Linked DNA regions of Homo sapiens: region 1 is linked to region 2. The links come from fine-mapping of genetic effects on gene expression. A gene starts in region 2. The other region holds a variant in brackets. All regions are shown on one strand. Distances are from middle to middle. Region 1 overlaps UBE2F (ubiquitin conjugating enzyme E2 F (putative)). Region 2 holds the start of SCLY (selenocysteine lyase).

What was found. PIP is the estimated chance that this variant, and not a neighbour inherited with it, causes the effect.
Region 1: its variant is fine-mapped to the expression of SCLY in whole blood (TOPMed, PIP above 0.99).

The regions. Positions count from the first base shown.
Region 1 is chr2:238,004,265-238,020,599 of GRCh38, reverse strand. It overlaps UBE2F (ubiquitin conjugating enzyme E2 F (putative)), which reads right to left. Exons shown (of 10, transcript NM_080678.3): 5 at 3,967-4,034. The region is part of intron 4 of UBE2F-SCLY (UBE2F-SCLY readthrough (NMD candidate)); the gene reads right to left. Among named protein-coding and RNA genes, the nearest start is that of UBE2F, 45 kb to the right of the region's middle. The variant G/C (reference allele first, on the strand shown) is at 8,254.
Region 2 is chr2:238,054,190-238,070,524 of GRCh38, reverse strand. It overlaps SCLY (selenocysteine lyase), which reads right to left and starts at 9,524. Exons shown (of 12, transcript NM_016510.7): 1 at 9,382-9,524; 2 at 6,056-6,168; 3 at 2,360-2,460; 4 at 1,048-1,228. The coding sequence starts at 9,470. It overlaps UBE2F-SCLY (UBE2F-SCLY readthrough (NMD candidate)), which reads right to left. Exons shown (of 19, transcript NR_037904.1): 8 at 13,275-13,367; 9 at 6,056-6,168; 10 at 2,360-2,460; 11 at 1,048-1,228. RefSeq lists silencers at 9,315-9,764, 9,905-10,114, a cis regulatory region at 13,158 and an enhancer at 13,074-13,243.

The sequences.
Region 1 (16,335 bases), 50 kb after region 2:
CTTTATTAAAGGTTTTCCACATTCACAGTCTTAATAACAGACCTTCACTGCAGGAACTGTAACTCTTAGGAGACAAGTCCTTATGAAGTACAGAAATTGTGTCAAGTCAGTCATGGCAGTGAAGCAGATGCACCCTGAGAAGCCCCAGCCCATCCCTAGGCTCCGCACTGGCTGCTGTATCCGTTCTCACTGACCCACCTGGTGCCCTCAGAGTGTGCCCTCACACTCTATCCTGAATGCCTGTGCCTATGTGATTTTCCTATGCTGACTGAATTATTTCATCTCTTTTCTACACTAAGTTTGTAGGGGGCAGAGAGAGGGGCAACCACTGAACAATTTGTGTTTTTGCCTAGCATGGCAGGCACAAGCTACACACCGGAAATAGTGTGGGCAAGACAGCTGGCACTCCCTCAGGGCTCACAGCCCAGTGGGAAAGAGATGCTCAGGAGAGTCTGTAAGCAATGATTCATTATAAATATGGCAAATGCAACTACTTTTGTGTTCAGCCAAGTACTACACCCTAATGATCCCCTGGAGACGCCCTGCTGGGGACACCAGTGACATATGCTGGCCCCTAGAAGTTGCCCCACACTTGCCTGAATGAGAGGCAGACAGGAAGAAAACAAGAGAAGGGAACAGGAGGCTGGGTTCAGTGGCTCATGGCTGGAATCCCAGTACTATGGGAGGCCAAGGCAGCGGATCACCTGAGGTCAGGAGTTCGAGACCAACCCGGCCAACATGGTGAAACCCCGTCTCTACTAAAACTACAAAAATTAGCCGGGTGTGGTGGCAGGCACCTGTAATCCCAGCTACTCCGGAGGCTGAGGCAGGAGAATTACTTGAATCCAGGTGGCAGAGGTTGCGGTGAGCTGAGATCATGCCATTGCACTCCAGCCTGGGTGACAAGAGTGAAACTCCATCTCATTAAAAAAAAAAAAAAAAAAAGGCTGAGCACAGTGGCTCCCCAGCACTTTGGGAGGCCGTGGCGGGCAGATCACCTGAGGTCGAGAGTTTGAGACCAGCCTGACCAACATGGAGAAACTCCGTCTCTACTAAAAATACAAAATTAGCTGGGCGTGGTGGTACATGCGTGTAATCCCAGCTCCTCAGGAGGTTGAGGCAGGACAATCACTTGAACCCGCAGGCAGAGGTTGTGGTGAGCTGAAATCGTGCTAGCCTGGGCAACAGAGTGAGACTCTGTATCAAAAAAAAGGCAGGGGGGACAGGAAGGAAACGCTGGGGAAAGGAGAGGAAAGGACCCTACAGAAGCAGGGTAGGAACATGGTTCATGCAGAGCCACCAGCTGCTCTCAGTACTTCTGGGTTTGAGAACATGGGGTTTTATTCCTGATGAAATCTGACCAGCCCATCATTTATGAAACTTCCAAAAGAGACAGCAGTGGAAATAGAAAAATGTAAGATCATCGTTACAGAGCTAAAGGTCAAACACAGCACACAGAACTTCAGAAAGGCTGCATGGGAATGATGTTTCCCCACAGGGACTAGTAGTGGGGAGGGGAGAGGGGGGCTGGGGAATAGCAGGTCTGAGACAAGGACAGGAAAATTTAAGCCTTACCCCTCCACCTCAACCTCTGTGCCAGTCTCAAACTAATAAGGGAAACTAATAAGGGAAACAAGTCTTCAAGGCTCAGTGGCTTTCAAGTCATTCTTTATTCCATTTTCCTTCCTATTTCTTGAAGTCACAAATGGGACAAGACAGTATGACAAACATTTTCTCACCACCTGATGTGGTAGGAAGGGCACACGCTTAAAAGCTGGGCAGCCCTGGACATTAAGTGACTTCAACAATTCAGCCGTCTCCATTGGCAAAGCTAATGTTTTTAACTTTAGCTTTCAGAACCCAAACTTCCTAATGTATAAAGATATGAATGTTAAGATCACCCACTGACAGGAGGCTAGGGCAGGAGAATTGCTTGAACCCGGGAGCTGGTGGTTGCAGTGAGCTGAGATCACGCCACAGCACTCCAGGCTGGGGAACAGAGCAAGACTCCGTCTCTAAATAAATAAATAAATAAATAACCCACTGAACCATCAGAAGAATGAAATAAAGTAATGTGAGTCAAGACACCTGGCACACAGAGGCTCTCAATCATGCCCATTCCTTCCCTGGTATTTTCTCTTAGTTTGCTTTCTTCCTATAGTGAAAACAAGGAGCTCTGCTCCTAGATGATGCCAGATATACCTGAAACAATGGTTCTCTGATGCCTCACGACTTGTCTGGAAAGTTTATCAGCTTAGACTTAACTCCCTGCTATGACATCCAGAACGGTATGTCATAAGTATTTAGCAGCAAATCTAAATACAGAATTTTAAATACTGTATGCCTGTTTGTTTCCAGAAACCACCAAAGAGTCCCCAAATTCTAAACATCTGTACTGAAACCAAGCCTCTGGAACCACCTCCCACCGGACATGGTGCAGTGCTCCGTCGCCAGGTTTCTCAGTGTGGTTTGGGAAGGATGGAAAGTCTCAGCAGGTGGTGGATGGACAAAGACTGGAAATGTGTATTTTCCCATCTTTGTCTACAAATTTAAAAATTTCTTGGGCTGCCAACTCTTCCCTATCCCCATAAATTACATTTCAAAAAGAACCTTAAATGGAGTAGTCCGGTAAAAAGTCAATTTCCATAGATGAAGGTTTGCTTCTAAAACAAGTGTTGCAGCCACTGAACGGAGCCCAGTGGCTGGGGTTGGGGGGCAACTCCACTCGTCAGGCAGTGGGAGCACACTTCCCACAAGCGAAGTCACAGGAACAGTGTCCCCAATGCCCACATCCTCATGATGGGAGTGAGGCTTCCTTTTCTCTGGCAGCACCATCAGCTTGTGCTTTCCTACTGGACGGGCCAAGAGGGTTAGTTAGAACACGTGAGTAGGAATACATATCCATGGTGCACGCCAGTAAGACAAGCATGCTGAACTGCCTGTACGTCAACCCCTGGCAATTTGGGCCGAGACACATCACACCCGTCCCTGAAGCGCAGCCACACCTCCTCTAATACCCCAACTTGGGGGTGTGGAATTATTCAGACTCTCCAGTGGTTTGTCACTGCCAAATCGAAAATGCCCAACCAAACCCCCACATCTGAGTTTTCCCATTTTTTCCTCTATTCTTCCCCAACTCCAATTCTTCACTCGAGTTGACCTGGCCCTATCTGCCTTCTGCAGGTTGCAAGTTCTCATGTCCACACCTGTCACCACAGTTCATCATGTTTCCATGTCACCTAGAATACCCTCCCCTGGTTCTGGGCCACATCGGGGTGACTCCAGTTAGATTTCCCCCTAAAAGCTTAACTAGCCCTGACCACTTTCCAAAGTGATGATTACTTTCCCTTCTCTGAATTCTCAAAAACTAGTTTCCTATCATTGATGAGTATCACTACTGTCCTCTACTTACCATTTTTATCGCTTTATCAACTTTCTACACTTTATCTCTCCTAATTGGTCTGTAAGTTCCACCAAAGCAAAGACATAATGTAATGGTATTTGGTATAATTATTGTCTAAAAGGATCTTTGAGGGATTAACATGAAACTATAGGTATAAATTACTTATAGTTTAAACTACAAGTCACTGTTCTCTGAAATTCTAAAATACACATTTTATAGACTTCTGGAATTTTGGTGTTATATCATGAACAAAACTACAGTCATTTTATTAAATGCTTTTTTTCTTCAGTGCCAGACTGTAACAGATAAGAGTTATAGAAAATACACAGGCAGGCTGCCTGGCACATAGTACTCATAAGTATTTGCTGAATAAACGGAATTCTCTACTAACACTCTAAATACTGCTGATGAGTGACATTCATCACAAAAATACTGAAGTGAGTACTCAGTCACACATGGACACACGCAGAGGGGAGTGCTAGGGCCCTGTGCCAGTGGCGGGCCACAGCCACAGGCAGCCCCGCCCGAGAAGTAAAACAACAGGCTCAACGCAGGCTACTCACCACCATGTTGTACGCATCGGGAACTTCAGTTTCAAACTGAAATTTTCCACCCTGGTAGTAACCCTCATCTATCAAAAAACACAAAACAAAACAAAAAAATCCTTTAAATTAAAAAAAAAAGGAAACAAAAAGCAAACACTCTGTTAGGATATGGCAAATACAGAGAATCAGGAGTTTAAAAACAGGCCTGCAGAGTTCCTCGGTTCCATCACCAAATGCACACACACTGGTGGAAGTCCTGCCCCTGCCTGAACAGAAATGGGCTCCATGCTGTCACCTGCCTGTCTGTCTTCTCAGGGGGCTGAGCACACCCTCAGGGAAGGGAAGGGACATCCTTCTGGGGCCATCTGCCTGGCCTCCTTGCATCCTACCATGTTCCTGGAACCTACAACCCTCCGAACACATCTCATGCCTTAAGTGACTTCTTTATCTGCTTACTGCTGGTCTCCCCAAGAGAATGTCAATTGGAGGACACAAGACTAACAGTCACCAACAAACCCTTACTGAGCACCCAACCTCTGCTGGGCATGGTTCTAGGCCTTGGGGACACAGCAGTGAACCTGACAGAATCACTGCCTCAGTGATTGCTTGATGCAGCCTTCAGAACAGAGCAGGCCTTCTAGAAACGCGGGCTGGTAGGCACGAAGGAGGAAGCCCAGGGTCTGAGCATCACCACATTGCCATCCACATGCTGTGTACCCCCACTCCCTCTTTACCCCGCCCCCCACACCCTGTAGACCCCACAGGGCAGTCCCTCTCCTCAGGTGGTACCCAGCCTGGGGTCACTAAGTGGCTGCTGGTGCCAGCAGAGGGCACTTCAGCATGAATGAGCTTGGAAAAGCCACTGGAAATAAATTATTCTCAATTTTCAAATTTGACAGAATTAGCACCATTTTAAAATTAAAATTCAACTTCCCCTAAAATATTTATCATCATGAACAAACCAGTAATATTAAATCTTATCATTTTCCTCAAATTTTTATATGAAATGAATGCATAACAGCAAGTTGTTAGCCTCAAACAAGTCATCATTAAAAAAAAATTCCATTCCTTAAGAGTTGAGACCGTATCAACATTTATGTCATCTAGTAGTTAAAACTGGCATTACCTGGACCCTAACATTTTTTTTCTTTGCCAATTTGATAGAAGAGAAATACCAGTTCTCTTTTATTTTACATTCTCTGATGAATACTAGTGAGGCTAAAATTTATATGATTATTGGTCATTTAGGTTTTTCTTTTAAGAACTGAATGATCAATGTTCTGAAACTCTCCTTTTATTACTGAGGTATTCATCTTTTAATTACCAATACAAAAATCTCTTAATTAGCCTTTGCTTTTTAAATAGGCTACAAGCAATTTTTCTTAGTCTGCTGTTTGCATTTTGATTTTGTGGTTTCTGAACACTAGTTTTCCATTTTTAAGAAGCTAATCTTTCTTTAGGGTTTCTGTCTTTGGGGTCATGCTTAGAAAAGGCCTTTCCCAACCAAGATTATATCAATATCCTCTTATATTTTCTTCTAGTAATTTAATGGTTTCATAGATTACATTTAATCAGCTCATTCATTCATCAACTGATTGCAGACTAAGGTCGTATTTTTTTTCCTAACTGGTTGCTTAATCACCCCAACGGCGTTTATTATTCTAGCCTTCCTCCACTTACTTGAGATGCGTATTTCTAGTTTTTATAAATACACTTGGATTTCTGACTGGCAGTATAAAGTCTCTGGCAAAGATACTTGTTTGGGGAAATTTTTAACTCCAGATATAAGAACTTTTCAAATAAGTGGCATCTTAGATATAAAATACTCAGAGTACATATCCTTGTTCATCAAAGCATGTGTGGATGTTGGTGTCTTACATGTATTGTGATATTGACCACTGTGGCACAACACAGAAATCCAATGCCAGGCTTAACATTACAAACCACGCAGTCCACTCTGTGAACTGTTACACAGCTTTTGGATGATGCTGCTTCACCCGCGCTGTCCTTTTCCTTTCCCTTAGGAATGATTACTACCCATGCGAGACACCCTGGTCGTGGCTGTGCTCTGGCCATTCCATCCTGCCATGCTATATTTTTTCTCTAGTTGGCTTTCCAGTTCATGGATTACAGAGTTTCAACTCTATTGCCTACCACTTTCAAAGATGTTATTTGGTCTAATATGATTATCACTTCACCTTATTCCCTCTGCTCCAGTCAAGTTCTTCCTTAATAATTATTAGGATTATATCTTCTCTTAACTCATTAAAAAGTGAGAACAGACTGTTTTATTTTTTTCTCTTTCATGAAACAAATCTCTCTCAGGAAAATGATCTGCTCCTGCATCAGTACTTCTTTTTCCCTCTTTGAAGTTGCACAGTTTTTAGACCTGATCCAAATCTGCTTATTTATTATTGTTAATTTGCCCAGAAATTCCACAGTCCAACTTAAAAAGCAGCTTGGGAGCAGACTGGACTGAGATGAAACCCAAGAGCATCTCTTATTTACAAGGTTTCCTTCACGATGTCCCCAGCTTAAGAGTTCAGATTCACCTTCTACACCTGGCTCTGGGAGTACCTGGCCCAAGGCGGAGACGGTTCAAGGAAGGCCTGCTCACTTCCACAGCCGGCAGGTAGTGGACTCATTGAGAATGTCTGTAACTACACGTGCACCGTGGCCCACAGCACAGTACACAAGTCCAGGACAGGCCAATTCTATGTTACTATCGTCCATGGCTGCTGGGACTGAAAACACATTTCTCAGACAACTAGGTTTTAAAATACAATAATGAAATGCAACTGAGGGAAGTTCCTGGCACTCAGCTCTCAATCAGCCAGCCTGGCCCCTGCCCCACTGTTACAATTAGAGGAATTATCCTCCTCTTTCCTTGTGCTTTAGAGCCCACTCCTCACTACCTTTGAGGAACCATACTCCAGTGTCTTCAAGATTACCGAGAGCCCTGGGAAAACAAACCTTTTGAAGGGGTATGTCGCCTCAAATCACTGTGACAGAATCCATTTCTAGATTCTAGATGGCCGACATCCACATATGCTCTGTCTGGTAACAAATCTGTGGACAACGCCCTTGAGGCCAAGGAGTCATGCCAGCTCTCTGTCCCACCTCCTCTTCTACAACCTTCTTCCCCCCTGCAAAAAAAGGCCTACCTCCCATCTCCCCCTGTACTAGAATGAACTGTCTCAAGGAGTGGACATTCCCAGGGGACAAAAGTACCCGTGACGCACTGATAAGGGTAAAGCCACCTCAAAGCGACACATTAAGGTAGGGTTGTGCTTTTCCCTATATTTGCTTTTTCCCCCACCACTGTGTCTCCATTCGCTTTTCCCTATCTATAACCATTTCTTTCTTTCTTTTTTTAAATTATTTATTTATTTTTGAGACAGAGTCTCATTCAATTGCTCAGGCTGGGGTGCACAGCTCACTGCAGCCTCGAACTCCAGGGCTCAGGTGATCCTCCCACCTCAACCACCCAAGTAGCTGGGACTACAGGTGTGTGCCACCACGCCCAGCTAGTTTTTTTGTAGAGATGGGGTCTCACCATGCTGCCCACGCTGGTCTCAAACTCCTGACCACAAGCGATCTGCCCATCTTGGCCTCCCCAAAGTGCTGGGATTACAGGCATGAGCCACCACACCTGGCCTATACCCATTTCTGTAAAGGACAAAGCATGGTATTATAAATAGTATGTCCTGGTTCACGCTGGAGTGTCTTGGGTTCAGACACTGTGGAGTCTGATGGCAGGGATGATGAAAACTTCATTTAGTAACTTCAAACCCTAGACCACTGTAAAAGCAGGCATTACCCCTTTGAGAGCCAACAAAAGAGGATGCCAAGAAACAACAGCCATGGTGCCTTCCTCCACCTAGGGCACCAGTTCCACGTCTCACCTATCTAACTAGGAACCTCCAGGAGCTCAGAGTGAGATGGCTGTCAGAGGCATATTGTTAGAATGAAAATGAAGTAAGACTTTTGCCTGAGGGAAAGAGTGATTTCGCAGACTAGTTTGACAATTAATGTATATGGCAGATAGTTTTGATAAACTGAATGGGCTGAATCTGGAGCTCCAAGCTTTGGGTGAAAATAGGAAGAATGTAATAAGATTTTTAAAAATACTACATTGGTATACATATTAGCATGTGGAAATTAATAATACTGCTGTTTCTCTCAACTCTTCCTCAGCATTTCCAGCAAAAGCCTGCAAAGCTGCTCTGAAGTGAGGAGTGACAGATGTAACTATTCAGGGTAGAAAAGCATTTGATGTCCCTGCAGCTGACAGGGATTGGTAAA[G/C]TGATTCTGGTGGACACTTCAGAAACTGAAGCAAAGGACTCCAATGACTGAGTGACAAAGCCTTCTCCAAGTCAGGTGGCTTCCAATTCTCTACTTTCAACAAAATGGAAGAAGGAATCTAATCTAACAGTCAGTGGAAAAATCATGAAAATACTTTATATGACGACAGGCAAGGTGACTCGTGCCTGTAATCCCAGCACTTTGTGGGGCCAAGGCAGGTGGCTTGCTTGAGTTCAAGAGTTTGAGACCAGCCTGAGCAACATGGCAAAACCCCATCTCCACAGAAAAAAAAAAAAAAAAAATTGCCAGGTGTGGTGGTGTGTGCCTGTAGTCCCAGCTACTTAGGAGGCTGAGGTGGGAGGATTGCTTGAGCCTGGAAATTTGAGGCTGCAGTGAGCCATGACTGCACCACTTCACTCCAGCCTGGGCAACAGAGTGAGACCCTGTCTCAAAAAAAAGAAAATACTTTGTACAATCTTTGGCCTTTAACTTTGAAGTCCAAAGACAAAATGGCACAGCCATAACAAGACACTTTCCATGCCCATCTAATCTACTTATTTATGTGAACAAGCAGTCCTGAGTGTTTATATCTATAAAGACAAAATAATGGAAGAAAACTGGTATCAGACCTTTGTTTCTAGCATAAAATAATATTCATTCACAAATGCATCAATTTAATCAGGGAAAATGCTAATAGTAACCCCATCATTTTCAGAGATACACTGCAAGTGAAATGTTTAATTATCATCAAAATTTGCTTAAATTCATTATTCATTACACAAATAGTTGATGAGTGCCCACCATGTGCCACACACAGTTCTAGGCCCTGGTGACACATCAACAAGAGATAATTCCCGCCCTTATGAAGCGTATATTCTAGTGGAAGGGAGAGAAAATACATAAATTATATAATAGAAGGAGTAGAAAGTGGGAAGAGGCTGCAGTTTTAAGCAGGGAGGTCAGAGAAAATGATGAATTGAAGGAGGAGGGTACTGGGGTGAAGGACACTCCAGGCAGATGAAACAGGGTGGGTACGGTAAGAGGCCTAGTATGTTCCGTGAACCCTGCAGAAGCCAATGTGGTCAGAGAGTGAGGTGGAGGAAGAGGACCTGAGCCCAAAGAGGGAGCAGATGCAAAGGGTGTTGGGCCCTGCAGGCCCCTGCATGTAGCTGGCTCTGATTCAGAGTGAGATGCGGCCATGAAAGGGGTCTGAGTAGGGGAGGCACAGGAGCATATAAATGGATCGCAGAGCAGGAGCCCAGTTGTGGTTATCTGTTGTAATCATCCAGGTGAGAGATGGTAATGGTTAGGATCAGGGTGGGAGCAGGTGAAGTAGACAGATTTTGAAGGCAGCAACACCAGAATTTGCTGACAGATTAGGCACGGAGGGAGGAGAGAAGGAGTCAAAGAAGATCTTTGACCTTGCAATGGAAATGGCAGAGTTGCTACCATGAAGATAAAAGGACTGCAGATGGCACAACTGTGTGAAGTTCAAATCAGACACATTAACTTGAGATTTCAAGTTGGCATCCCAGTGGAGGTGTTGAGTGGGCAGCTGACAGATCATTCTTGAGTACTGGGAGAGGTTGGATAGAGAGGGCAGTTTGGGAGCCATTCAGGGTAAAGCATTCTGATGTCACAAGATAGCCAGGACACCAGGGAACTGACTATACAGGTCCAAAGACAGGGTGAAGCCTTGAGGTTCCCCCACTTTGAGGGGCTGGAAGATGAGGCAGAGGACAGGCAGCCAGAGACAAAGGAGGAAAAACCAGAAGCAGGAGCCTGTACAAATAACAACTGCAACAATCGTTCAAAAGCAAATGTTTAACACCTAAGAGTCTTACAGTTATAGGAACTTTTCAAATAGTGAGCTCTGGGCCGGGCACGGTGGCTCACGCCTGTAATCCCAGCACTTTGGGAGGCCAAGGCAGGCGGATCACAAGGTCAAGAGTTCGAGACCAGCCTGGCCAACATGGTGAAACCCGTCTATACTAAGAATACAAAAATCAGTCGGGCATAGTGGCGGGTACTTGTATTCCCAGCTACTTGGGAGGCTGAGGCAGAAGAACTACTTGAACCCGGGAGGCAGAGGTTGCAGTGAGCCAAGATTGTGCCACTGCACTCCAGCCTGGGCAATAAAGCAAGACTCTGTATCGAAAAAAAAACCAAATAAATAAAGCTCAATCTATCTATCTACCTGTATATCTAGTTACAGAAGAGTATAAAAAAATGACAAATAAAATACTTAAAAGCATAAAAATGTTTACATTAGGGTGCAATTCAAGGGAACAAGTGGAATGAAAACATGAGTGCCAGGAGAAAAACTAGCAAAGGTTTTCCAGCCAGTGAAGTAGAGCTTATTCACATCAAAATAAACAAAAAAACAAAAAAACAAAAAACTGTGATGATGGGAGTATCTGTGGTGGTGGGCATATCTGTGGTATTTATATTCTACACTGGAAACATTTCAAAGAGTAATATAAGACTTTCATTTTTAAATGTCAATATTTACAGCACCCTGGAAGTGACATCCTATGCAAACTTTAAACTTAAAAGGCTCTGATCCATCTCAGATCAGACTGTTGAAAGAGAAGAGACAGAGACAGATGGTGGAGAAGAGGAAGTGAGTGTGAGCGGAGGCAGGAGGCAGCACAGACATGGGCACCAGGGAGTGGCCAGGACTCTGGGATGCAGGGCTGCAGACAAAGGCACAATGACAGCTATTGTATAGAGATGCTGAGACTTAGAGGAAAACATGAACATAATGAGGAAAGAAATGGACGGTTACGGGGAAAGCACCAAATGGAACGTCAACAGCTAGAAAATACAGTATCTGAAATGAAAAATTCACTGGATGCGCTTAACAGCAAATGAGACATTGCAGAAAAACAAACTGTCCAAAATGAGGCACAGAAAGAAAAGTGAACGAAGACCTGCGACCCAATGGAGGTATAATTTACACGTAGAAGTAATCTATATGTAAGACATATATGATATAGATATATAAACTAGAGTGCCAGAAAACGATCACAGAAAAATATTTAAAGAAATGTTGGCCAAATTATTTCTAAATTGGATGAAAACTATAACTCACAGATCCAAAAAGCTTAATAAACCCCAAGTGTGATAAAAAGAAAAAACCACTTCAAAGCACATTATAATCAAACTGCTGAAAGCAGTGATAAGGAGAAAATCTTAAAAGCAGCCAGAGAATAAAATGCACATCGCATAAAGTGGAACAAAGAATCACCACTAACTTGTAAGGAAAAAATACAGAAGGCAGTAGAATGATATCCTTAAAATGCTGAAACTGTCAACTTAAGAATTCAAACTTCAGCAACACTTGACAGAATTCATCACAAGCAAATCTGCACTACAAAAAAATCTTCAAGGATGTTCTTTAGGCAGAAGGAAAATAACAGAGAGGAGAAATCTAGATCTACAAAAGGGAATGAGGGTCATAAATGTTAAGTATGTGGAGACATATATTTTAAAAACAGACTGTAAAGCACAGATAATATATTCTGGGTTACAACATATGTAAAAGTAAAACAAATGAGAACTATAATATAAAGGTTGAGCTGGGAAATGGAAACATACTACTGTTTGTCTAAGCTTCCATCTTAAACATCAGAAAAAGAAGAGCAAATTAAACTGGAAATAAAGAGGAGGGAAATAACAAAGACATGAACAAAATTCAAAAAACAACAGGGCAAAATCAATGAACCTAAAAGTAGGTTCTTTGCAAAGGTCAAAAAATTGACAATCTTCTCATTAACCTGATCAAGAGAAAAAGACAAAAATTACAACATCAGTAATTAAAGAGGAGATACAACACAAACTCTACAGAACTTAAAAGGATAGGATAAGATGATACTAAGAACATTATATCAATAAATTGAAAAATGCAGATGATATGAGCAAATCCCTTGAAGGACACAAATTAGTGAAGCCCACTCAAGAATAACCTAGGCAGCCCTATATCTATTAGAAATTGTGTTTATACTTAAAATCTTACCACAACAAAACAAAATTCCAGAGACAGGTGGCTTCACAGGTGAATTCTACCACTGAATAAAGAATTAATAGGCCAGGCACAGTGGCTCACACCTGTAATCTCAGCACTTTGGGAGGATCACTTGAGCCCAAGGGTTCGAGACCAGCCTGGGCAACATAGTGAGACCCCCGTCTCTACAAAAAATAATTAGCTGGACATGGTAGTGCATCTGCCCACTACAGACGATGGGCATCTGTAGTCCCAGTTACCTGGGAGCCTGAGGCGGGAGGACTGCTTGAGCCCAGGATGTTGAGGCTGCAGTGAGGCGTGATCGTGCCACTGTGCTTCAGCCTGGGCAAGAGAGTAAGACCTTGTCTAAAAAAAAATCAATTAACTAATTAATACTAATTTTACACAAACTCTTCCAGAGAATAGGACACTCCCCAAATGCATTCAAAGACCAGAATGCATTACCTTGACACCAAAATTAGGCAACTCATTACAAAAAAAACTACAAATATCCCTCACAGACAGGTAAGGATTTGTAAAAATTCTTAACAAAATACTAATATATCAAACTGAGCAATATATGAAACCATTAACACATAATACATGATGAATTATGGTTTATCTCACAAATGCAGCTTTGGTTCAACATTTGAAAAATAATCTATTAATGTAATTTACCTTATCAACAGACCAAAACAGAAAAACCATTATGATCACCTCAGTAGATGCAGAAAAAGCATTTGGCAAATTAAGCATCCATTCATTATTGGCCATTTTTGGTTTGGGAGGAAAAAAGCATCCATTCATGATTAAAAAAAAAATACATACATACATATACATATATATGTATATATGCAAACAAGAAGTAGAAAAGAACTTCTCAACCTGATAAAGGGCATCTGCAAAAACCCTATAGCAAGGCCGGACTCAGTGGCTCACGCCTGTAATCCCAGCACTTTGGGAGACCAAGGTGGGCAGATTACCTGAGGTCAGGAGTTCGAGACCAGCCTGGCCAATATGGTGAAATGCCATATCTACTAAAAATATAAAAATTAGCTGGGCATGGTGGTGGGCACCTGTAGTCCCAGCTAATTAGGAAGCTGAGGCACATGAATCGCCTGAACCCGGGAGGCAGAGAATGCAGTGAGCTGAGATCACACCACTGCACTCCAGCCTTGGCGATAGAGCAAGACTCTGTCTCGAAAAAACAGACAAAAACCCTACAGCAAACCATACACGTAATGATGAAAGACTGACAGCAACCCCCTAAGATTAGAAACAAGCCAGCTGGGTGCAGTGGCTCACGCCTGTAATCCCAGCACTTTGGGAGGCAGAGGCAGGCGGATCACCTGAGGTTGGGAGTTCGAGACCAGCCTGACCAACATGGTGAAACCTCATCTCTACTAAAAATACAAAAATTAGCCGGGTGTGGTGGTGCATGCCTATAATCCCAGCTACTTGGGAGGCTGAGGCAAGAGAATTGCTTGAACCTGGGAGGTGGAGGTTGTGGTGAGCTGAGATCATGCCATTGTACTCCAGCCTGGGAAACAAGAAGGAAACTCTCAAAAAAAAAAAAAAAAAGAAAAAAGAAAAAAGGAACAAGCCAAGGATGTCCCTCCTACCACTTCTATATATGACTGTACTGGAAGTCTTAGACAACAAAGTAAAGCAAGAAGAGGAAACAGAAGGATACAGACTGAAAGGGAGAGATAAAATTGTCTTTATGCATAGATGGCATGATAGTTTACATAGGAAAGTCTACAGAATCCACAATACAACTACTACAATGAAAAGCAGGTTTATCAAGGTTGTAGGACACAAGGTCACTATACAAAAATCAGCTGTATTTTTATGTACTAGCAACAGAAAACTGAAATGGAGATATAAACCATGTTCATGGATTAGAAGATGTGATAATTAAGATGACAATTGATATGGTTTGGACGTGTGTCCCCTCCAAATCTCATGTTGAAATGTGATGCCCATTGTTTGTTTGAGGTGGGGTCTGGTGGGAGGTGTCTGGGTGATGGAGAAGATCCCTTATGAATGGCTTAGTGCCATGGTAATTAGTGAGTTTTTACTGTTAGTTCATGCAAGAGTTGGTTGTTTAAAAGAGTCTGCATCTCTTTTGCTCCCTCTCTCACCATGTGATATGCCGGCTCCACTTTGCCTTCCGCTAGGATTATAAGCTTCCTGATGCCCTCACTAGAGGCAGATGCCAGCACCGTGCTTCCTACACAGCCTGCAGAACCATAAGCCAAAATTAGCCTCTTCTTCACAAATTACCTGGCCTCAGGTATTTCTTTATAGCAATGCAAATAAACAAACACAGCAATTCTCCCCAAATTGATTTACATTAGAGTCAATGCAGTCCTAATCAAAATCTCAGCAAGTTTTTTGCCGAATTTCACAGGCTGATTCTAAAGTGTATGTGGAAAAGTAAAGGAACAAAAATCACCAAAATAATTTTCTACCAAAAAGTAGAAAAATGTTGAAGGAGTCAGAGGTCACATGATGGGATTTCAAGACTTACTATAAAGCCATAATAATCAAGCAGTAGTATTTGTACAAGTGTAGACGTGCAGAACAATGGAATGGAACAGAGTCCAGAAGCACACCCACACACATATAGTCATGTAATGTCAACAAAGGTGCCAAGGTAAGTCAATGGGAAAACCCTGTTCAACAAATGGTGCTAGAAATGGACAATGCAAAAAAGAGATAGAAAAAAAAAACCAGAAAACTACACTCTTCTCTTGTATAATATGTGAAAATTAACTCAAACTGGATCACAGACCTAACCATAAAACCTAGAGCTATAAAACTTCTGCTTTTAAAAAAATAAGGCCGGGCATGGTGGCTCCTGCCTGTAATCCCAGTACTTTGGGAGGCCAAAGTTGGCTGATCACTTGAGCCCAAGAGTCAAGACTAGCTTGTGCAACATGGTGAAACCCTGTCTCTACAAAAAATACAAAAATCAGCCAGGTGTGGTAGCATGTTCCTGTGGTCCCAGCTACCTCAGGAGGCTGAGGCGGAAGGATAACTTGAGCCCAGGAGGTGGAGGTTACAGTGAGCCATGATCGTGACACTGCATTCCAGCTGGGGCAACAGAGCGAGACCCTGTCTCAAAAAAATAAAATAATTTTAAAAATAAGAGAAAATCTTTGTATTTCTTAGACAAAGATTTCTTAGGACACAACAAACACAAACTATTCTTACTAGTTTTGCATTGCTGCTATAATAAATTTCCACAAACTCTGTGCCTTGAACAATACAAATTTATTATCTTCTGGAGGCCAGAAGACCAAAATGGGTCTCACTAGGCTAAGATCATGAAGTTGGCAAGAGGGCACTCCTTTCTGGATGCCCCAGAAAAGGCTGTCTCTTTGCACTATCAGCGGTCAGAAGCTGCCAGCATCCAGGGCTCATGGGCCCTTCCTCCATCTCCAGAGGGAGCAGTGGCAGGTGAGTCTTTCTGCCAGTGCCTCACCTGCTTCCTGCTTCCATTGTCACATCACCTTCTCTGGCTCTAACTGCTTCTCTCTCCCTTTCCACTTTAAGGATCCCTGTAATTACACTGGGTCCACCTAGAAACTCCAGGACAATCTCCCTCCCTTAAGATCAGATGACTAGCAATCTTAATTTATCTGCAACTCTAATTCCCTTTTGCCATGAAACATAACACATTCAACAGGTTCCAGGAATTAAGACACAGACATCTTTTAGGGCCATTATTCTGCCAACCACATTACCACAAAGAAAACAATCATAAGTTGGATATCCCCAAATGAATTTAAAATACATGGTCTTTAAAAGGTCTTTAAGGAAATAAAGACGAGCCATAGACTAGGAAAAAACATTTATAAAACACATCTGATAAAAGACGTATCTATGGTAAAGAACTCTTAAAATCCCACAATAAGAAAAAAAAACCTTATTTTTTTTTAAATGAGCACAACAGTTGAGCAGACGCATCTCCAAAAAAGAGACAGTCATTAAGAAAATGCAAATTAATACCACAATTAAATACCACCATGTAACCACTACCATGAGTAAAGTTTTTTCAACTAAATGCT
Region 2 (16,335 bases):
TATTTTTAGTAGAGATGGGGTTTCACCATGTTGGCCAGGCTGGTCTCGAACTCCTGACCTCAAGTGATCCACCCGCCTCCACCTCCCAAAGTGCTAGGATTACAAGGCTTGAGCCACTGCGCCCAGCCAAAAAAATTTTTTTTTCAAAAAAGGCTTCATAGTCAAACCAAGCAGTTTGGCCACAGTCCCTTAATCTTTAAAATAAAAATATTTTCTTTTTATTCACCTGCAGGTTTCCAGACAGATTACACAAGAAAACTCAGGTTGAGAAGAAAATCTGTCTCAAGGATAGTGTTGATTAATTGGCTGCCCCATTTTTACAAGTTAATGATCTACACCTGGTGAACATGTCACTCCCTTTTGGGACTTCCTATGACTCTGTGGCTCTGTCCGTGCTGTGTGACAGCCACAAGGCCACTGCTGCTGCAGCGAGCCTCCTCCTCCCTGAGGGCCCCTGCGCCTCCTGCCGCACTTGGGCACCACCTCACTCCGCTTCTCCACACATAGCAGGAGGCCTCGCGTCATGGGTGCTGAGATCAGGTGCGGCAGCTCGCTTATTCCAGGCTTCACACCTGAAGTTTAGGTCTATTTGATCCTTTTCCTTCATGTGAGAGGAGAGTGGGAGCTGAGATTTTATGATGAAAACCAAATAATGACAAGCATCATTTGCCTATTTGCAGGCGTACTATTTAAAGGTTAAATATTTATTACATGCAAGTTTCAAATATCACTCAGTTATACAAATGGCTAGTTCTACATATTCATTCTCAATGAACTTCCTAAGGGAAAGTTTGGCCACACTTGCCAACCCCCTTGTGGCAGCTGGCCTCTGCACCGAGAGGGGCAGCCAGGGAGCCCAGTGCAGTGAGGGGCAACTATTCACCAAGGTGCCAGGGCCTGCCTCCTCATCAGAACCAGTGAGTTACAGTGAGTGGCACACTGAATCTACATCTCTGCAGCGGATCCCGGGCTCTGCTCGCAGGCCACTTCCCGCCTCGCAGCTGGAGCTCAGCAGGCTGGTCCCAGGGCCACCCTGCACTCACTCACCTGCCACTTGTTCTTCCACCAGGTGCTCCAGGGGCAGCCGGATGGAGTCGTGTTCCACCGAGGAAGTAATGAAATGGGGCTTGGCCCCCTTCACTGGGCTGTGGTGCCCACCTGTGTGTCCCTTTGAGGTCTGGTTTGCGTGGAAATGTTTCACCACAGAATGGATTACTAAATTATTTGACTGCAGAGATACAGCAAAAAAAGCATTTACAAAAACTGTGCTGAGGTAAGGGTCAGAGCAACAATTTCTGTTACTTAATTTCTTTTGTGGCTAACATCAAAAAAGCTTCAAAGAAATTCAACTTCCTGAGTGGGACCTTTTGAAAGATTTGGGGTTTTCCAACATTCAAAAACATGAGATTCCAGTCAATTATGTCTGTTTTATAGTTAAGCAATATTATTAATTTTTAAGAATTTATATAAATGTATTGGTATAAGTGCAGTGTGGTTATATGCATAGAATATTATGAATTTTTAAATTTTATAAATCTGCCATAAAGAGTATTTTGTCCAGCCACCCACTATTGGTGGGAGTATAAATTGGTACAACCTCTACTGTGGGCCATTTATCACATCTACCAAATGAGCCCCGTGACCCAGCAATTCTAGTTCTTGGACTTTTTCCTACAGCTACATTCACAGTGAAACAAAATAGTGTGTATAAAGGTTATTTATTAAGTGCAGCACTGTTTGTTACAGCAAAACCTTGGAAAGTCCTTAAATATCTATCAATTAGGGATGAAAAGGACTGATTCCAGGGCAACAATGACGGGGAAACCTTTATGGAAATAACAATGCAAAGCAGGTTACTTTACATATTACATTACAAAAATCCTATCGGCTACCTGGAATTTACTTAAAGGATATATACTAATTATCTCGAGCTAGTATGCAATATAGCAAGACCACACATTACTCTCTTTCTTTCTGAGACAGGGTCTCACTCTCTTGCCCAGGATGGAGTGCAACAGCGTGATCATAGCTCACTGCAGCCTTGAATTCCTGGGTTCAAATGATTCTGCCACCTCAGCTTCCCTAGTAGCTGGGACTACAGGTGTACACCACCACGCCCAGCTAATTTTTTTTTTTTTTGTAGAGATGGACTTTCCCTATGTTGCTCAGGGAGGTCGCAAACTCCTGGGCTCAACCAACCCTCCTGCCTTGGCCTCCCAAAGTACTGGGATTACAGGCATGAGCCACCACACTTGGCCTACTCTTTCTTTAAATGAAAATGTAGCAAAAGGAAATCACTTTCTGTGTATTTTATTATAACTTACAGTTAACAGAATGTGAGTGTGTTCAGAAGCTTTACCTCAGTGCCCCCGGAAGTGAAGATTATATCTTGAGGTTTCCCCCCTATCATCTTCGCGAGGCTTTCCCGAGCTGCATTTATAATATCCTTGGCCTTTCTTCCTTGAGGGACCAAAAAGGAAATTCATTAACATTGCTTCACCAAGCTCAATCAACGCATCTAAAAGGACAACCAAATACAAAGGAATAAGAGGTCTGCGTGGGCCGTTCTAAGACAAAACCTGGCCCCTTAATGTGAGCACAGCAAAATGCTACAACCTAGACACAACCCGGCAAAGGGGCGGCCGAGACAGCAGCGAACCAGGGACCAAACTGAGAGTTATTAACTCCATGAGACCCAGAAACAAGTAAGGGAGTCTGGCTATGAACCTGGACGTCCCCCAAGATGTGGCTTTCTTCTTACTGGATGCTAGAGGGAGGGCAGCTGTGGCCATCTGCCTTGCTTCCCATTCATCAAGAGAGGAGAATGAAAGGATGGAATGAGTTGCAAACAACAAAAATAAGCAAAAACAGAACTCATGACTCGACGCGAAGTCCAGTGCCATATCTCATTTTGCATGTCGCCCACAGGGTACCTGGGCTACAAAGGTTACTGTCTCAGGGACACACCTGCTTTCAAACAGGGCTATGCATCCGGCCATCACCCAGTTTCACTGGCTAGAAGGAAAACACAGCAACCATGCTTGATGGGGCAAAGAAGGAAAGGCTCTGGCATGGGAATGCCGAAAGTTTCAGTGACCATTCTTAGTGTACACACCAGGAGTCCCCAAACTTTTTTGACCATTCAGTCTTATTTAAAAATAAGAAAAAATTGAGCAGGCACCGCTAAAACATATACTATTACGAAACATCATAAAAAAGAGAAATATAAAAAGCTGAGGTAAAATAAATATGCAAAGTAATTCTGCTGCTCCTTAACGCTACTGTATAGATGTCAGTTTTAGTAGTAGTTTCCTAAACACCTAAGTGGTGTTTAGGAAAACTCCATCATTTTTCTTGGTGACACTAAAAGTCACCGTAATAAACTGTCACCCTCACTCTCAGCCTTCCCTCTCTCAGTGATAATGGTTTGGCTGTGTCCCCACCCAAATCTCATCTTGAATTGTAGCTCCCATAATTCCCACGTCATCAGAGGGACCCGGTGGGAGGTAACTGAATCATGGCGGCAGGTCTTTCCCATGCTAGTCTCGTGATAGTGAATCAGTCTCATGAAATCTGATGGTTTTATAAAGGGGAGCTCCCCTGCACGCACACTCTTCTCTGCTGCCATGTAAGATGTGACTTTGCTCCTCTTTCGCCTTCCTCCGTGATTGTGGGGCCTCCCCAGCCATGGGAAACTGTGAGTCAATTAAACCTCTTTCCTTTATAAATTACCCAGTCTCAGGTACATCTTCATTAGCAGCATGAGAACAGACTAATACACTCAGGAAATGGCAACTCCATCCCTCAGCAGCCCAGGGCAAAAGCGTGGGCTCTTTCCCTTTTCATTCCCCGCCAATTAATCCACCAGCAAATGCTGTAGGCTCTGTGTTCAAACGATGTTCCAAACCTGACTCTGCCTCTCCACCGCCCAGCCACCAACCAAGCCAAGGCCACTGCTGTGATGTTCTCCTAGCAGGCCCCCACCAGGGTCCATTCTCCACATAGTGGACAAAGTAATGCCTCGAAAACCCAAATACATTTTGGGCACCGTGCTTCATCCCTCCCCCAACAGGGTGCTGAGTACACAGCTGGTGCTCAGTCAGTGCTGCTTACGTCAGCGGTTTCCAAAACCCCAAGGCCCTCTCAGGAGGTCCACAAAGTCAAAACTGTTTTCATGATGATACTAAGAGAAGAACTGCCTTTTTCACGCTCCTTTTCTCACAGGTATATGGTGAACCTTCCAGAGGCTTCCGTCACTATGATGTGACTGCAGTGGGCTGGACGGGGAGGTATGAGCGCCAGCTATCTTCCAGCAACAGGCAGTAAAGAGACTTCCACATGCACAACAGTGCAATGCTCACTAGGTTTCTTGTTTTGCCGAAGATAGTTTATTTTTCATAAAAATTCATGAATGCTGAGCTTATTTTCAGGGTTTTTGTTTGTTTTGCTATTATAAGCAAGACTGTGATAAATATCTTAGGTATGTAAAATCCCCACATCCTCAACATATTCCTTAAAATAAATTTCCCTCAAAGGCTTTAGATAATATTTAGGCTGGGCATGGTGGCTCACACCTGTAATCCCAGCACTGTGGGAGGCCGAGGTGGGTGGATCACAAGGTCAGGAGTTCAAGACCAGCCTGGCCAAGATGGTGAAACCCCGTCTCTACTAAAAATACAAAAATTAGCCAGGCATGGTGGCGCGTGCCTCTAGTCCCAGCTACTTGGGAGGCTGAGGCAGAAGAATCGCTTGAATCCGGGAGGCGGAGGTTGCATTGACCCGAGATTGCACCACTGCACTCCAGCCTGGGCGAGAGCGAGACTCAATCTCAAAATAATAATAATAATAATAATAATAATAATAAAATAAAATATTATTAGTTTAAATAACAATATTGTGAAAATAATTAAACCACTCTATAAATTGATTTTTTTTCTTTTGCATTTCGATCTGAGTAGCAACACAAAGTGAACTGCAACACTTTTGAGTTTATGGTTCTTAATTTGTGGAAACAAAGGCTATCAAGGAAACCTAAAAGCCACTGCCAGGCTTCATTCAGGTCCAGAACATGATTTCTCCCTGAGAGCGATTCCCAGACTTTTTCATGAGACAATGCCTGTCATCGGCATTTAATTATTCTCCATATTTTCAAGTCTAATACGTCAGAAATTTCAATTTTACTAGAGGAGAGACTGGATACGAGGCAATGTGCAGAAGATTAGCCAGAATAGACCAACAAATAAGCCAACAAATAAGTTAATGAATGACTAGTATCTGAGCTGAAGGGCTTTGTTATTAAGTTGCCGTGAAACGTTTAATAAGCAAATGGATAGGAGAACGTATTAAACCTGTAAATTGTACGCAAGTGTTACTAAATCGTATGGCCTGGCAATATTCTGTTTGAAGTTAATTTAGTTCATCATCATCCACAGTTAACACAGTTTATCTTAATTATCTCTCATAAACATGAAATAAGAAAGGTAAGACTTTAGCTTGCTCATCTGTCTGAAAAACAGAATGTAACTCTGTCATATAACTGACTTGAAGCAAATTCTTCTCCAAAACCTCCAATTTAATGGTCTACATTACAATAAGAATAAATTGGAAACAAATAAGAATATTCATAACTAAAGTAATTAATGAAAAAGTAATTTTCATCTTTAAAAAGGGCCAGGATTATATGTTATCCTGATGACCTAAAAGACATATTTTGCAAATTCTGTAAGGATTGACTGAGCTAGATCTGTGAAGTGCTCCACAGGTACTGACTGCTACTTCAAGGAACTCTCAGTAGACACCTTTCTCATCTGGGAAAGGGTGACAGGACAGCATGTTAAAGATTAAACATTAAAGGTTAAAGATTACAGTATCGACAAGGCTCAGCTTACAAATGGGGCCTTCCCAGAAAAGAAACTATCAAAAATTACAGCTCAAGAATTGCAGCTAACAGAAACCTATTCAAAACAAAGCCGTCACGTGTGGGTGTGCAATTTCTCTAAGAGCGCCCCATCCCCATTATCTCCCATCAGTGAACACGTGCATCTTCTAGAATTACCTGCTGAATACGGGCTGCTGGGATTTCCCCAGGCTTCCCACATGGCCTTGGTCATGGCCTGGATAACTTCTGGCTCCAGGGGAGTCGTTGCATTATAGTCCATATAAACTTTCCTGAAGGAAAGAAAGCAAAGACACCCATTAAGGAAAAGGAGATGGCATATGGGAAATATGGCTGCTCTGTGTCTATCCCATCGGCAGGAGCAAATAATGTCAAGGGCATGGTGATCCTCTGCATAAGCACTGCAGGCATCCACAAGCTGCACTTGGGAATCTACAGATCTACACTACTTATGGAAAATGCATGCATAATTTCTAAGACTCTAGTTTTTGTCAATTTCTTTTATAATTGATAGGACTTGGATTTTCATTTCGGTTTTCAAAATTTCTTTCTAGCAAGGCACAGTGGATTGTGCCTGTAGTCCAGCCATGTGGGAGGCTGAGGCGGAATGACCTCTTGAGGCCAGAAGTTTGAGGCTGCAGTGAGCTATGATGGTGCCTATGAATAGCCACTGCACTCCAGCCCGGGCAACACAGCCAGACCCAGTCTCTAATAACAAACACTCTTTCTACCCCTTGGTAGGATTAATGGTCTGTTGGGCCCAGATTACCCATCTGACTGCTGTAAAGGGCAGATCACTGGCCTCTTCCTTATGGAAGGAGGGGAACAGCTGCACATTCCCCAAGGGAACTTTCCTGTCTGCTGTTTTAACTTCATCAGAGGTTCGCCTTATTTCCCCACACTCATTTTTGCGATGGCCTGTGGGGCTCCTAGTGACCTGGGCTTCTCCCTGGGGCAGGTGAACTTTGGCCCCAGACCTTGCACTTTCAGTTTCTTTGCCCAGAAAGACTACATGCCCTGCCCCCACCTTACTTTTTTAGGTCTTTGTTCCAACTTAGTCCTCTTGTGAGACCCCCTGCCCTGCAGCTCTGCTTAAAACTACAGCTGGCTGGGCGCGGTGGCTCACGCCTATAATCCCAGCACTTTGGGAGGTCAAGGCAGGTGGATCACTTGAGGTTAGGAGTTTGAGACCAGCCTGGCCAACATGGTGAAACTCCATCTCTACTAAAAATGCAAACATTAGCCCTACTAGGGAGGCTGGGGCAGAAGAATTGCTTGAACCCAGGAGGCAGAGGTTGCTGTGAGCCGAGATCATATCACTGCACTCTAGCCTGGGCAACAGAGTGAGAGTCCGTCTCAAAAAAAAAAAAAACAACAACAAAAAAAACAAACCCACAAAACTGCAGCCACCTATGTCCCTACCTCCCCAGCCTCCAGGTCCCCTTCCCGCCTTCCTTTCTGGGCAGCATCATCATCTGACATACCAGACTTGTTCCCTTACTGTCTACCTTAATAGAGTAACAGAAGTATGGCTCCATGGGCATGGGGGCTCTGTTTTTCTCACTGCCCTGTCACCAATGTTGAAGCCCATGGTTGCCACACAACAGGGGCCTGATTTTTATAAGATGACAAAATAAATGCCACAGAAAGTACAAATTCCCTGAAAGATCCCTCACTAAGTAAAATTTATCTGTATATCTTTTTACTAATATCCAAAACCTTCGAAAGCCTTTAGAAAAATGTGTAGTAGTAGTCCTGCCTGATATTAATTTATCTAGTTTTTAAATAAACAGTGCTTACACCAATCCACATGAAAACCCAGATACAATGACTAACTGTGGCTGTTAAGCCACTGAGTGTGGACAGAATGTGCATTAGTTGAAATGAAGCATCTTTTCTGTTCAAAATCACTCAACAGGCTGTGCCCTGTGGCTCACGCCTGTAATCCCGGCACTTTGGGAGGCCAAGGCGGGCAGATCACCTGAGGTCAGGAGTTCAAGGTCAGCCTGGCCAACACGGCGAAACCCCATCTCTACTAAAAATACAATAAAATTAGCTGGACGTGGTGGCACGTGCCTGTAATCCCAGCTACTTGGGAGGCTGAGACAGGAGAATCGTTTGAACCCGGGCAGTGGATGTTGCAGTGAGCCAAGACTGCACCACTGCACTCCAGCCTGGGTGACAGAGTGAGACTCCATCTCAATTAAAAAAAAAAAAAAAAATCACTCAATAGGTACAAGGCTTTGACAAGTTTGACTCGCCATCCTTTACCACTCTGGTACTAGTATTAATAGTCCTAGGAATCCCCCAGCCCGGCTTGACTTTGCATGTGCCCTTATATCTGTTTTTCTTTCCTATAAATAAGCATCCAAAGTACCTTAGGCTAGCTAGTGTTTGTTGAGCGACTGTAGCTCTTCAATCTGCTGCTGGGCTGAACAAATCTATTTTGTTCAGATTAATACTTTACACATTCCTTTGCTTCATTATTTGCTGCTTCCTTAAAATGCTATCAGTATTGGATGAGCAGGCTCAACTTTGTTAGCTTCATAACCAAAAAATAAAAAATCTTGGGAATCTCGCTCCACTGATTCCCTAGGGGATATTTTCCCAGATCCCTTCACTTTGTTCCAACCAAGGTAGAATGCCAAATGTGTGTGCTTTAGGCCTGGACCCCCTCATATTCTAAGCATGGGTAGCGAATGAGCTCACAAAAAGGAAAAAGAGGGGTCTGGAAAGAAGACACACAAACCAGAAAATGCATACCCCTGCCTCCTGCTCTTCTCGGACTTAACTAGTATGGATACCACGTGCTTCGGGTCTCCGCGCTTCTCAGCGGTGGCCATCCCGTTTCCTGCAGCTGGGCCAGCAGTCTGGGAGAACCCTTGATTCCCTTTCACCTGCCCCAGTGCACCAGCTTCCTACCAACGCATCCGTTTCTGGGCGCACACCACATCTCTCTCCTAGGTTGTTACAAGATCCCCAACTGGCTTCCCGGCTTCCTCTCGTCCCATGCCTACCCGCGCCCCTACTTTCTAGGAAGCAGCCAGAAGGACTCCTTCAAAACACTTAAATTGCATCGCCCCGTGATCAACTTCCGAGGCCCCATAAGGCTCCGAATGAACCCCAAAGTTCTTCCCGGGCTCAGGGGCTCTGCCGGTTCACCTCCGGCAAGTCCCCTGCCCTTCGCATCTGCTGTGCCCTCTTCCTGGCAGGCTCTGCTTCCCCAGAACCTGCAAACCTCACCCCTGGAAGTCACTCGGGTTTCGGCCCCAAAGTCACCTCTCCGTGGGCCCTTGCGGGGCCACAGCTCGCACCCGCTCCTCCTTGAAGCTCGCATCCCTGACTTAGGCCGACCTCGCGGACATCCCCGCGCGGGACGCCCCACGCGAGAGCGGCCACAGGCCGGGAGCCCCCTTCGTCCTCCCGCGCGGGACAATCGGCGACAGGCGCCGGCCGCTCCCCAGCCCTGCCCTAAAGGCGCGCACCTCTCCGGCGAGTTGTGTTTCCCGCAGCCGCTGGGCTGACTCGCCGCGGGTGCCGGCGCATCCCTCCCCGGCGCCACGGCCGCCTCCATCCCCGCCCCACTGCTGCCGGGCATCCAGCCTCCTTCCCGCGGAGCGCTACGGGCCCAGAGCGCCGGGGAGGAGGCGGGGCCGCGACGCCCGGGCGCGTCCGGATTGGCTGAGCGAAGCACCCCAGCCAATCCACCCGCTTCAGAGGGCCGCCGAGCCCCCAGCGGGGAGGCGAGGCTGCGCTGGGTCAGGTGACGGGTGGGGGCGGGGCTTAGCGCGTCACAGAGCTTCCCGGGAACCGGGCGCTAGAAGCCGCGTCTCCTGGGCCGGCGGATCCCCGCACTTTCACTTCCGGGGGAGCCCCGTGACCTTTGCTGTCTGCGGCAGGGCCGCCATCGGGCCGCGGCCGGTTAGTCGGCGTAAGAGCAGGCGGGGCCCGAGCTGGACCTGAGGAGCAGAGGCGGCTGGGCAGTCCTGCGGGTGCCTCCCTCTAGCCGCATGAGCGCGGGACCGTGCACTCCGGGAGAGCCGGGGCCGCGCGGCCTTGTTCCCCGCGAACCCTCGAGGGGAAGTGCCGGGGCCGCGGCAGCAGGGCCAGGGCCCCGGGGGTCTCCCGCAGGCCACCCTGGACAGTGATGAGCAGGTCCGCTGGACCTGCGCGTCCGTTAGTCGGAGCGGCTCCATAGGGGACCTGGATGGCGTGAAGTTAAGAGTCACGCATCGAGGATGGACTTGAGGGGATCTGGAGTAGAGGATGGGAGGGCATTGAGAAAATAGGGCCAGAGATGAGGGACTCTAAGTGGGCGTGGAAACGCAGGAAAGATTAATTCAAGATCTGTTTAGGCCGTTAAATAGGAATTGGGGCATGAGGGACAGGAAGGAAGCAAGGATTAGACAAGTGACTGGGAAGATGTTAGTGCCTTTATCTGGGTAAGAGGGAAGACGGGAGGGGGAAAGATGATGGGTTTAGCTTTGGACATGTTGAGTTGTCTGTGAGACAGTCACAAGTGTAAACATCCACCAATGGTTGGTGTCCCGCCAACCATTAAGAAAAGTCAGTTGAGAAAGTGGTAGAAATGAGCAAAAATCCTCACGAAGCCATCCTACCGTCACTTTTTTTGTTGTTTTTTGTTTTTTTGGCATAATAGTGTCTACCTTTAATTGAGCCTTGAACTATGCCAGGCAGTGTTCTAGGTATTTTTCGTGTGTTCACTAATTTAATCTTGATGATTAACCCAGTCTGGTAGGTATTTATGTATGAGGAATCCAAGATACAGAAAGGCATCTTGCCCAAGTTCACACGAGTAGTGGCTGGAGCCAAAATTCGGTTTCAAGCATGCTTTGCCAAGAGGTTGAATTTTAATTGGCTTTTCATGGGCTTTCTCTATTTTGTGTCCTGTTGGGGTCCAGAATAACTTGGCTTTTCCAGCACAGCAAATCTGCAAATTTCTGGACTCATTCTCTCTCATTCTTCCCTATAAACGCAGCTCATTTCTTGCCAAATGCAGCCAATAGCAAAGGGCCCACCAACATTTAAGAAGCAAATGGATGCACAGGAGCATGAGAACAGTCAAAAGAGGAGGAAAGGAAAGGGAATTGAGAAGGAATGTCAAAAAAGTCAAGAAGACACATAATAGTGTAAAGTGTGGCTGAGAGGCAATCCGAAGTCTACTGTGCGTAACAATTAGGAGGCACTGATAAACTAGCGAGAGAAGTCTCAGTGATGGGAGAGGCATGGAAGTTAGAATGCAAAGATGGGATATGAAAAAATGAAGAATGCAGTCAACTCTTAAAACGGTTGAGAAAGGAGGAATTAAAAAGGCGTATAAGATTACAGGCAAGCTGGGCGCGGTGCTTCACCCCTGTAATCCTAGCACTTTGAAAGGCTGAGGTGGGTGGATCACCTAAGGTCAAGGGTTCGAGACCAGCCTGGCCAACATGGCAAAACTCCGTCTCTACTAAAAATACAAAAAGTAGCCGACTGTGGTGGTGCATGCTTGTAATCCCAGCTACTGGGGAGGCTGAGGCAAGAGAATCACTTGAACCTGGGAGGTGGAGGTTACACAGTGAAGCTGAAACCATGCCACTGCACTCCAGCCTGGGAGTCAGAGTGAGACTCCGTCTCAAAAAAAAAAAAAAAAAAAAAGATTAAGAGCAAATAGAGACTGAACATGTTCATAGGCTAAAGGGAGTTAGCCAACAGGACGTGCAAGGAAGAGGAGCCAAAGTCCTGGAGGAGACGATAGGGGATGAAGTTAAGAGTAAAGGTGGCTAGGGAAGTTGATAGGCATGGGGAGAATTCATTCTCTAAATCTGTTTGGAAGGCTGTAAGGATAGGAGCCCAAGGACAATGGACAAAGTGACGATTCATCCCAAGCACTCCTTGGGCCAGTTAGGCAGCAATAAGGTTTGTGTTTCCAGGTGAACATAGTGAGTGTAGTGGTGGAGTCAGACAAGATAGTGTCCAACATGGCTGGTGATACCCCGAAAGAATTGAGTACAAACATACAGAAGCCCAGGTGCTGAGGTAGCCCAGCTGAAAACAGTTTAGGGTACAACACGCAGCAGCAGCTACCACCATTCCAAGTATACTGGTCACACATGCAACAGATGACCTACCAAGATGTCTCTAATACAAACACAAGTGCCCCATAGTGGCCAGACATTTGAGGAATGGCATCTCCATGAAGATAGTGAGAGGTGACAGCGTGCTGGCAGCCCTGGCAGCCCTCGCTCGCTCTCGGCGCCTCCTCTGCCTGGGCTCCCACTTTGGTGGCACTTGAGGAGCCCTTCAGCCCACCGCTGCACTGTGGGAGCCCCTTTCTGGGCTGGCCAAGGCTGGAGCCGGCTCCCTCAGCTTGCAGCGAGGTGTGGAGGGAGAGGCGCGAGCGGGAACCAGGGCTGCGCGGGGCGCTTCTGGGCCAGCTGGAGTTCCGGGTGGGCGTGGGCTTGGCGGGCCCCGCACTCGGAGCGGCCTGCCAGCCGGCCCCGCCGGCCCCGGGCAATGAGGGGCTTAGCACCCGGGCCAGCGGCTGCGGAGGGTGTACTGGGTCCCCCAGCAGTGCCAGCCCACCTGCGCTGCGCTGGATTTCTCGCCGGGCCTTAGCTGCCTCCCCGTGGGGCAGGGCTCGGGACCTGCAGCCTGCCATGCCTGAACCTCCTCACTTCCATGGGCTCCTGCGCAGCCTGAGCCTCCCAGACGAGCGCTGCTCCCTACTCCAGGGCACCCAGTACCATCCACCGCCCAAGGGCTGCGGAGTGCAGGCGCAGGGCAAGCGGGACTGGCAGGCAGCTCCACCTGCAGCCGCAGTGGGGGATCCACTGGGTGAAGCCAGCTGGACTCCTGAGTCTGGTGGGGACTTGGAGAACCTTTGTGTCTAGCTCAGGGATTGTAAACGCACCAATCAGCGCCCTGTCAAAACAGACCACTCGGCTCTCTGTAAAAAGGACCAATCAGCAGGATGTGGGTAGGGCCAGATAAGAGAATAAAAGCAGGCTGCCCGAGCCAGCAGTGGCAACCCGCTCGGGTCCCTTCCACGCTGTCAAAGCTTTGTTCTTTCACTCTTTGCAATAAATCTTGCTGCTGCTCGCTCTTTGGGTCCACACTGCCTTTATGAGCTGTAACACTCACCACGAAGGTCTGCAGCTTCACTCCTGAAGCCAGCGAGACCACGAACCCACCGGGAGGAACGAACAACTCCAGACGCACCGCCTTAAGAGCTGTAGCACTCACCGCGAAGGTCCGCAGCTTCACTCCTGAGCCAGCCAGACCACAAACCCCACCAGAAGGAAGAAACTCCAAACACATCCATACATCAGAAGGAACAAACTCTGGACACGCCGCCTTTAAGAACTGTAACACTCACCGCGAGGGTCCGCGGCTTCATTCTTGAAGTCAGTGAGACCAAGAACCCACCAATTCCGGACACAATAGCACGTGCACCAAATAGAATTCTCACCTAAGGGAAAAAGTTTATAGAGCTATCAGAGTAGGTCTCCAATAGAGCAAGGTCTTGAGACAAATGGGTATTTTATTTAAAAAAAAAAATAGGCTGTCATGAAACAAGAACAAACAGTGAAAAGAGATACTAGACATTAATAATTGAAGTTTAAAAACTCAACATGAGTTGTCAGGTGTTGGGGAAGGAAAAGATGCATAGGCAGAGAACAGAATTTTTAGGGCAATGAACTATTTTGTATACTATAATGGTGGATACATGTAATATATTTGTCAAAATTCACAGAAGATACAACACCAAGAATGAATCCTAATGTAAACTATGGACTATGGGTGATGATGTGTCAATGAAGTTTAATCAGTTGTTAACAAAAGTACCACAGTGGATGTTGATAGTGGAGGAGGTTGCGTACATGTGCACAGGCAGGGGATATATGGTAACTGCTCAATTTTCAAGTGAACCTAAAACTCCTCTAATAAATAAGGTTTATTGTTTTTTTTAGAACCCCCCAATAGATGGGTTGAAGAGCAGAATAGGCATAGCTGAGGAGTGAATTCGTGAACTGGCCCTAGGAATTCTCTGATTATTGCTCAAAAGGATAGAGATGGAAAATATGAAATAAAATTGTCCATTGAATATGGTGATTCTCAAGCAGAGGTGATTTTTCCTTCCAGGGGTCCTTTGGTCATATCTGGAGACAATTTTGGTTACCATAACAGGAGCTGTGGTGCTTCTGGGCTGTAGTGAGTGAGGCTATTTATACTACTGAGCATCCCCCACAATAAATTATTAGCCCCAAGTGTCGCCAGTGCCAAAGGGGAGAAACCCTGATGTGGTTCCACGTTTCCATTTGGTATCATTTCTTCTGCCAAAGGACTTTGTAGTGCTAGTCTGCTGGTATGCTTCCTTCAGCTTTTGTACACATGAAAACTTGTTATTTTGCCTTCATATTTGATATGTTCCTTAGATCTAGAATTCTGGCTTGAGATTTTTTCTTTCAGCACTTTAGAGTTACTTCTCCAATATTTTCTTGCTTGTATTGTCTGCACGAGACATCTGTTGTCACTCTTATCTTTGTTCCTCTATATGTTGTCTCTTTATTTCCTTCCTGCTTGCTTTGAATATTTTGCTCTGGCCAGGCACAGTGGCTCACGCCTGTACTCCCAGCAGTTAGGGAGGCAGAGGTGGGAGGACAGATTAAGCCCATGAGTTCCAGACCTGCCTGGGCAATATAGCGAGATCCCATTCTTCACAATAAATTTAAAAAACTATTTAAAATATTTTGCTCTGTCACTGATTTTGAGCAGTTTCATTATGAGACTTCACTATGGGGTAGCGTTCTTCATGCTCTTGTGCTTTGGGTTTGTTGACCTTTTCAGACCCATTGGATTAGAGTGTTTATCAATTTGGAAATTTTTTCTTTTCAAATATTTCTTTCTCCCCTGCTTCTTTGGGGATTCACAATTATGAGTTATCTCACAGCTCATGAAGTTCTCATGGGGGGAGAGGTTCCCAGTTTTTCCCTTTATTTTGGATTGTCTTTGTGGCTCTATCTTGAAGTCCATGTTTCTTTTGTAACATATAAGCTGCTGTTAAACCCATCCAGTGTCTTTCTCTAATTTTTTTTTTTTTTAGATGGAGTCTCTCTCTGTCGCTCAGGCTGGAGTGCAGGGGCGTGATGTTGGCTCACTGCAACCTCCGCCTCCCAGGTTCAAGTGATTCTCCTGCCTCAGCCTCCCAAGTAATTGAGATTACAGGCATGCGCCACCATGCCCGGCTAAATTTTGTATTTTTAGTAGAGACAGGGTTTCTCCATGTTGGCCAGGCTAGTCTCAAACTCCTGACCTCAGGTGATCCCCCTGCCTCGGCCTCCCAAAGTGCTGGGATTACAGGTGTGAGCCACCGAGCCCGGCCTGTAATTTTTAATTGAATGCTAGGCATATTATATTTTCTCTGGTGTGTGCTGGATTTATTTTATTTTATTTTATTTTATTTTTGTAGACAAGAGTCTTGCTCTGTCACCCAGGCTGGAGTGCAGTGGCATGATCTCAGCTCACTGCAACCTCCTCCCAGGCTCAAGCAATCCTCCCACCTCAGCCTCCCAACTAGCTGGGACTACAGGTGCATGCCACCACACCTGGCTAACTTTTGTATTTTTTGTAGAGATGGGGTCTCACCATGTTGCCCAGGCTGGTCTCCTGTGCTTAAGCCATCCTGACCTCTGCCTTAGCCTCCCAAAGGGCTGGGATTACAGGCATGAGCCACCACTCCTGGCCTGGATATATATTTTTAATTAAAAATTGTATTGAGATCATTGTAGATTTACATGCAGATGTAAATAAATGAAAGAGATCCTGGCTGGGTGTGGTGGCTGACGCCTGTAATCCCAGCACTTTGGGAGGCTGAGGCGGATGAACCACCTGAGGTCGGGAGTTCGAGACCAGCCTGACCAACAAAAATACAAAAATACTCTCTACTATACAAAAAACTATACAAAAATACTGTCTCTACTAAAAATACAAAAAATTAGCCAGGTATGGTGGCGCATGCCTGTAATCTCAGCTACTTGGGAGGCTGAGGCAGGAGAATCACTTGAACCCGGGAGGCGGAGGTTGCAGTGAGCTGAGATCGCACCATTGCACTCCAGCCTGGGCAACAAGAGTGAAACTCTGTCTCAAAAAAAAAAAAAAAAAAAAAAAAAAGATCCTTTACCCAGCTGTCCACAATGATTAACGTCTTGAAAACTATAGTGTAACATTACAGCCAGGGCCAGGCGAGGTAGCTCACGCCTGTAATTCCAGCACTTTGGGAGGCCGAGGTGGGTAGGTCACGAGGTCTGGAGTTCGAGACCAGCCTGGTGAATATGGTGAAACCCCGTCTCTACTAAAAATACGAAAATTAGCCAAGTGTGGTGGCATGTGCCTGTACTCCCAGCTACTCGGGGGGCTGAGGCAGAAGAATCACTTGA